Linked DNA regions of Homo sapiens: region 1 is linked to region 2. The links come from fine-mapping of genetic effects on gene expression. Tissue or cell type: esophagus mucosa. Region 2 holds a variant in brackets; the other region holds the start of a gene. All regions are shown on one strand. Distances are from middle to middle.

Region 1 (4,017 bases), 58 kb before region 2:
TCTGTCTGAAGCATGATGGCTTCAGGCCAGCTCCCTGGGCCTCGGGGCTCAGCATCTGCAGAGCCACGAGAGGCAGTGGGGACGGCTGTGAGCTGGCAGGCACCCGGGACGCTGGCGAAGCCACCATAACCGAGTGCAGAATTCTAGCCTCGGGCGCTGGGAAGCCTCCCCACACCTCAGTTGCAGATGAAAACTTTGGCTTTTGCATTTTAAGAGCTTATTTTCTTTTAGCTCTTTAAAGTGCAGCCACTTCTGAGCAACTCAAGTGCAAAAATAACAGAAATCTGAAATGTATTCAGAAGCATTTAAGAAATGGAGTGCAAGCCCAGTTTTCCAACCCCTCAAGTCATTTAAAAATGTAGAAATGAGCTGGGCTTTCAAGATAGCAAGGATATTCCCTTAAGACCCCAAAGCAAGGCTGAGGAATTTGTCAGCCAAAGACGACATCTCTAGAGAAGAGCATCTGAGGGTTCGTGAAGAGAGGGGCTTGCGCATCTCTCCCTCCCCTTCCTTCGCCCAGGGCAAGTGGGACACCTTACCTCCATCTTATGAACTGGATTCGTGTTCTCTCCTCTAGGACCTCTTGGCTCTGGTTTGCCAACAAATCAGACTTAGAGAGGTGGTGCTTCACCTGGGAAATCCAGAGGGTCCATGTGATTCCTGCCCAGTGTGGCCCCCAACTGGGCTGGCACAGAGCCCAGACGAGCACCTCACCCTTGCCCAGAATCATTTACGGTGCACCTCCCACCTCTCCCCTCTCCCTCACCGCTACTCCCAGGCAAGGTCTCAAACTCTCATTTACCACATCTCTGGTCACGTGGATGTCCTGGCCATGGGTGGGAGGGGAGTCAGTGGACATCTTCTCCCTTACACCCTGGGAAGGGTGGTTGATGGACAGCTTTTCCTTTATGCCCCGAGAAGCCTCTTCTTCTGTCTGAAAGGTGAGAAATTCCCTCTGAAAATGTCACTCTGCATCCAACCCTGGGTCTTCTTCTCCTCTTCCTTTCCTTTTATTCATTCTCCATCACAACTCACACACCACATATTCACACACATACACTCCTTACCTCACTGTTCCCACAATAAGCTACTTCCCTGTAAAGTCCTCAGAACTCCCTAAGTCCCTGGCCCTATCCCAAGGTGTTCCTGAGACACCCTTGAGCTGGGAAGGATGCAGCTGAAACCCTTAAGCCAGGATGCTTGAGAAGCAGGACGGCGTTAGTGGTGGTGCTAACACATTTCCTGCCAGGACACAAGCCACAGTGTCCTCCAGCACATGTGAAGAAATTAGACTCAAATCTAGGAAGGGTGTCTGGCAATGAACTTGAGTTCCAGTTCCATGAAGAAGGAAGTCCAGATCCCCACACCCACTGAGACCACTTCTCTAGCATTTTGGATATCCTGAGTCATAAAGAAATCTTACTCACTTTTTTCAACCAATGATGTAGTACAGACACAGCCTCACTTTCCACAACGTCAATGTCCTGGAACAAATTGGCAAGTTGGTGACCTCAGAAAACCTAGAAATTCAGCTCTTCCCACCCAGCCCCCGCAACTGTTACTCAAATTTATTTGTAAGATCTCTATGAAGTGCAGCAGGGTCCCACAGGGGGAGAAGATATATGAAAAATTATTCCATGTGACTACCACCAAGCTGCTTACCGAACTGGTTATTGGTAGGAAGGGAAGCCCTACACCTTTCCGAGCAAGAATATACACAATCCATGTCGTAATTATCATCTTTGAATGTATACCAGGCCCCCTTCTTGGCTCCCTCCTTCCATTGAAGCTGCCTGAGAACTCCTATGGGACAGGAAGGTCATTGAAGGGAGGTGTCCACCTGATTGGCTGACCCATGGTGATGTGACAATGGCCTCCCTTTGAAAATGATGTATGTGAGTATAAATGCCGTTGCCAAGAGCCCCTGCATTTCAGGCTCTGGGTGCACTCCTATGAGTTACCCTGCTTCAAGGAGCAGAACCATTGAATAAAAGATTGCTGTCTAACACCATTGGCTGACCCTTGAATTCTTTTCTTGGGAAAGCACTAATTTGGGAGCTCACCTCCAGGCAGGAGGATGGGGTCTGGAGCCAGGAAACCTAAGGCCGATTTACACTGACTTCCTAGAACTAAATCAAAAGGAAAACCCCAACTTTCCGTGCCCAAGTAACAAAAAGACCAGAGGCTACGCCCTTTGCAACCCTCTCCTTTTCTGCATGGCAGATGAAAAACTGAAAGTATCTCTGATTGCTCCCCTCCCACAATCAGGCTGGTTGTGGGCCAGGTCTTCATTTGCATAGAGATATAACTTTATAACTTCACTTCAGCCTCTGATTGGTCACTTTCCGCAACCAATCAGACTGATCATGAGCCACTACTTCATTTACATAGGGTATATACCAAGTAACCAATGGGAAACCCCTAGAGGGTATTTAAACCCCAGAAAATTCTGTAACCAGTCTGCTCCCATCCTGTGGAGTGTACTTTTATTTTCGTTAAATCTCTGCCTTTGTTACTTCATTCTTTCCTTCGTTTGTGTGTTTTGTCCATTTCTTTGTTTAAGACGCCAAGAACCTGAACACCCTCCACCAGTAACAACCTGTCCCGCAACAACTTGTCATGTGCTCTTGACCTAATCATTAGTCCCTCTGGTCTGAGTTTCTTTGTCTTATACTGAAAGGGATAGAGTTGTGTCCCTAGCTTTCTTCTAACTCTAATATTCCAAAAATTTTCCCACGTTTATTCTTCTCAGGATTATAGAAAACCTTTTATCACTTTCTCCAATTCCCCTGATACAGCCACTACACGTCTTCCCTCTCAACAATTCGCCTCAATTTTATATCATCCCTGACATAGTCAGAATCGGCTAGGCTCTGCTGAGGACTGAGGCAACAAACCAACCTCCAAATCAAAATGTTTATTTCTCACTCTCAAAAGCTCTCGTGCAAGTTGGGTAATTTCAGAGCAATTGTGTGCCATGTGGAGACTCACAGGTCCACATTCAGAGGACACGACCTCCATGACTGCCAAAGCAGGGAAGAGAGCACAGAGAGGAATCAGGTCAGTGTTCCACCTTTCAGCTCAGAGGCTCCTACTTAGAGCTTTTGATCTAGAACTAGTCCTATGGCCCCTACCTAATTCCAAGGAAGACTGGAAATTGTAAAATAGCAGATGAAATTACCTGTCAACATCTCTGTTTCTACAGCTATCCCCTAAAATTTATGTTTTCATCCTTATTGATGTAATTTTATTTTTGAATATTTAAAATATTAATGTGATTCAGAAATCAAAACATGAACAGATACATTCAAGGACGTTCCATCTCTTCCCCATACCTTCAACCTTGTTCTAACTCACTTCAGAAGTAAAATTTTCATTAGTTTCTCGACGACATATCCTGTGCTTATGTTGTCAAAATGAAGCTCATACATAAATCTATTTGCTTTTTGATTACAATGTTATAAAATGCATACAGTAAAATGTACAAATATGCATACAGCGGAGAAAAATTTTTACACACACACACATACACACACACACACACACACACACACACTTACTTGTTTAACCACTGCCCAGATCAAGATAGAAAACATTTTTAGTAGGACATTTGTATTATATTTGATTTGATGCTGTTTAAAATCATGCTGCTATGAAAATTTTTATACTGTACCTATCTTTTGGTTGACATAAGCACTAAATCTTCTGAGTATATACCAAGGATTAGAGTTGCTAGGTCATAGACTTTAGATATGTGTAGCATTCATATACACCAAACAGTACTGCAAAGGGGTTGTATTAATCTACTGCCCATAAGCAATGTATGAAAGTGACAGTTACTCCACGTTTTTTCCAACACTTAGTATTGTCGCTCCTTTAAATTTAGCCAATCTAGTAGAGATGTAGTGGTAACTAATAATACTTTAATTTTCATTTAACCGATTATCAGTGGCATCATGCATGTTTTTATTTGCCTATTGGTCACTTTGGATATTCTTTTTTGTGAAGTGCCTCCTC
Region 2 (4,017 bases):
ACATCTCTAAGCACAGGTACAAAAATAAAGCAAACTATGACTTCATATAGATATAGAGATATATAGACTTTATCTAGGTGTTCTTTATATTTATATATGTGTGCAGAGGGCACGGGCCCCTGCCCATCTTGCCCGGCACTCATCTCTTGCCCTCCCGCTCCCCACACCCGAGTGCCACTCGCCCGAAGCTCCCAGTCTCCACGATTGCATCTGATCCTTGCCTCCCACATACATTCCCCTCTCTCCTTAAAATAGAACCAATTCTGTAGATTTATATAATTTTATGTACAGTCTCCATAAAAAATACATTAAAGATGGTGCATTACTAATTTGACCCTCCTACCCAAACAGAAGTTGTCTAGCAAAAGAGCCAAACAAAGGAGGGTCTCCTGGGCCTGACACTACGCAGGCAAATCAGCATGTCTGTACAAATCTCTCTCACACACACCACACACAACAGACACACCACACCACACACACAAACACACACACACCACACACGCACCACACACGCACCACACACGCACCACACACACACACAACACACACACAACACACCACACACAACACACACCAAACCACACAACACACACACACATCACACACATGCACACCGCATCACACACATGCACACCAGACACATCACACACACACACACACCAGACATACACACACCATACCACACACCACACCCACACACAATACACACATACCACACACAATAACACACCACATACAATACACAAAACACATAGCACACACACACACCACACACAGTCCATGTACCACACCAAACACACCAGACACACCACACACACCAAACACACACACACCAAACACACCAGACACACCACAAGCATACACCACACGCAACATACACACACCAAACCACACTCAACACACCACACACACTGCATCACACACACACACACCAGACACATCACACATACACGCACACCACAGATACACACACACCATACCACACACACCCCACACACATACACAACCACACAATAGACACACCACACACAACACACCACACAATACGCACAACACATACCACACACAATACACACACCACACCACACACACCACCCAGACACACCACACACAGATACACACACCACACACAACACACACACACACCAGACATGCACACCACACACAGACATGCACACCACACACATATACCACACACACCACATACACACACACACCCCACACACACACACACACACCCCACTTACTTCCTGAATCCAGAAAAGAAACACTGGACTAGACAGCTGGCTGGGGGTTAGAGACCAGGGGGACAACCTGGTGCCTGCAGAAGGACACATGAGACAATCCCTTCTCCAGCCCTGCCAGGACACCGTCGGCCATGGCACACCTCTCGTTGTTCATGGGAGGCCATATAAAACCTCATTGATAGAGTGGCTGACAACTACCCTTTCAAGAACTGCAAGATGACCGTGAGGAGGCTCATCCCTCCACCAGAAATACAGCTTCATAGACCACTATGCCAAAAGGAGGCCAAAGCCCTGGGTTCTACCACCAGCGTGAGGAGGGCTGGGCACTCGCCCCTCCCATGGCTTATATGAAAACCCCACACGTGCATGCCCGCAGCATTTCTAAGGCCGAAAATGCAAGTCACCTCCCCAG[C/A]CCAACCCCCTGCCCTCCGAGATTCCCTGCCCCTCCCACCACCTCCCCATCGTAAACCACGCACATGTTCACGATCCCTGGAGCCATACAGAAGTGGGGAAAGGAAAAGGGAAGGGAAGCTAACTGGTGTGTATACGGGGTGGCGAGGGAGAACCTGCCCTAGTTCGCAAAATAAATCCAGGAAATCCAGTGCCACAGAGAGGTAGGATTGGTGGAGCACACTTCTTCAAGACCCGAAAGAAAGGCAGGCCCAGGCAGCCATTCACGTCCCCATCTAGTGTGATGGGAATGGTGACAACCAAGGACCAGTGACAGGAGCTGAGCATTTGAGCCACGGGGTTAAAACTGTCCAATCTAGCTCTCCCAGCCAGGGCTCCAAAGCCGGTAGCTTTTCACCAGCTCTCGTCCGAAACCCTAACTACTACTACTGTCTTCTACACCGCAGAAGACAACACCCATGTGATTTTAATGACTGGCCACTGTTCCACCAGAGTATATGGCAACCAAGATACCCAGACTCTTCCTTCTCTAAGATGTGAGCAGCCATTAATGACCCCTGTATGGATGCTTCATTTATCCTTATCCTACATGGGATCCCTCAGGGGATGGTGGTGTCTTTGGACCAAATTCAATCTACTGAGTGTTTTTCTAACAGCTTAAAATGAGGTTGAAAAAAACTTCCACCTTCTCGGCAACCCAACACACAGAACATCTGGTGGGGTTATTATACTTGCTCCTGAAAGAAGGTTTTGAGAGTACAGACAGGAACCCAGAAATAAGGCTCTGAACCAGTGTGGATTCACTCGCAGTCAGAGGGAAGGGTGGTGATTGGTACCCCTAGCCAAACAGCAAGCTGGTAAGAGTGCGAAAGTCCAATCTGGGCTTTGATCCTTGGTTTACTGACTTCTTCTAAAGAAGAGATTTTTCATTCTGCCTCTTAATCTAAAAAGAAGCAGAGCTGGAGACATTAAAGAGAGAAGAATGGCTGGTCAAGCCAAGAGTTTCAGGTGAAACTCTTTTGCCCTCCCACCTCCACCACAGACTAGTGACTTTAGCCTATCAAAAGAAGAGAAAGTAAAGAGAAGGCCTCACGAAGCCACTGTGCAACTTCATGGCCGGAAGGAAGCCTCTCTACCTCAAGAGGAAAGGGGGATGAAGGCACGTCAGGCTCCAGCTCCCCCTCTCTATCACCATCACCATCACCAAGGCCCATGAACATTTTCAGATTGTGGACGGAGAGGCAACCCACCGCTGCAGCTTAGGAAAATGAGAATGGCACTTCCTTCTCCACTGATGAAGAGCTGGTGATAGGATGGGCATCTCAAGACAAGTTTCTCAGCTTTGGGCCTGAGGAGCCCCCAAAACAAATGAAGTTGAAATACAATATAAAGAAGATGTCCATGTTTGGTTTGGGCACTTAGTGTTAGAGGCTAATTCTAGAAGAAGCAAGGAAGATCTAGCTAAGAAGCAAGACCTCTCCCAAGATCCAGTCTGCGTTCACATGCAGGACCCCACCCCACAATCCGTCCCTGATGCCCAGATCCCCCTCCCACATGCCCTGCATGGCTACCACTCCCCAGCCAGATGCCCACCAGGCAATCATTCTTCGTCATCTTGGGATGATCCCCCAGTGTGTACCCTGCACCCTTACAAGTAACTAAGTTATCACATGACTCAAAGAGATGCTGAGGCTTGGTGTCCCCTGGGGTGGTCTCACCATCCTAACCCATGCCTGACCTCACCCTCTGTGCCCCTTCCAGCCTCACCAACACCTGGCAAAGCACACAGGCCTCCCCTCCACCCTCCAGTTCTCCAACTCCCCCTCCTGAAACACCAGTGCCCCATCCATTACCCTAGTCAATCTAGAGCTGGCCAATAAGGCACCTCTTTGGCCCTCTCCCTAAAGCAACACACACAGCCACATGGGGCTCTACACACTGCCTACTAGATCCACTTTATATGAAGAAGATACCCAGGCAGGGCTGGGTTAGAAGCCCCGGTGGGAATGTGCACAGCTCCTAGAGTACCACAGAGGCTGGACTCAACAGAGCCTTCCATGACCCGCTCAGCTCCACCCTCTGCCCCTTCCTGCAGCTCCCCAGCCATCCCTGCAGTGCCCCCAAAGCTCCTTTACATGCAAGCAAAGCAAGCCCAAGATTAACCATTAGCTTTTCTTTTCCTAGGTTTCTCTACAGATTAATAAAATGTACTTTATGTACAATTCTTCCCCCACCCCACCCCCAAGCCTGGAAAAGGCTTTTGCTAACAAAATAGGAAGAAACAGATTCCAGCCACGCAGTCTTCAGCCCTGGAGATTCAGATCGTGGGCAGTGCCAAAGATGCTGGAGGCTCCGTGAA

Direction of the effects. Positions count from the first base shown, and alleles are read on the strand shown. Sizes are in standard deviations (SD) of each study's normalised expression.
In carriers of allele C in region 2, the expression in esophagus mucosa of the gene that starts at base 1,807 in region 1 tends to be lower than with A alone (moderate effect, 0.72 SD a copy in GTEx).

Evidence for each region. PIP is the estimated chance that this variant, and not a neighbour inherited with it, causes the effect. A credible set is the group of variants that fine-mapping cannot tell apart.
Region 1: SPATA19 starts here. The variant in region 2 is the best candidate, but not a certain one, in a credible set for the expression of SPATA19 in esophagus mucosa (GTEx, PIP 0.81).

The regions. Positions count from the first base shown.
Region 1 is chr11:133,843,707-133,847,723 of GRCh38, forward strand. It overlaps SPATA19 (spermatogenesis associated 19), which reads right to left and starts at 1,807. Exons shown (of 7, transcript NM_174927.3): 1 at 1,663-1,807; 2 at 1,428-1,484; 3 at 803-934; 4 at 540-631. The coding sequence starts at 1,740.
Region 2 is chr11:133,901,350-133,905,366 of GRCh38, forward strand. It overlaps IGSF9B (immunoglobulin superfamily member 9B), which reads right to left. Exons shown (of 20, transcript NM_001277285.4): 20 at 1-4,017. Among named protein-coding and RNA genes, the nearest start is that of MIR4697, 4.8 kb to the left of the region's middle. The variant C/A (reference allele first, on the strand shown) is at 1,660.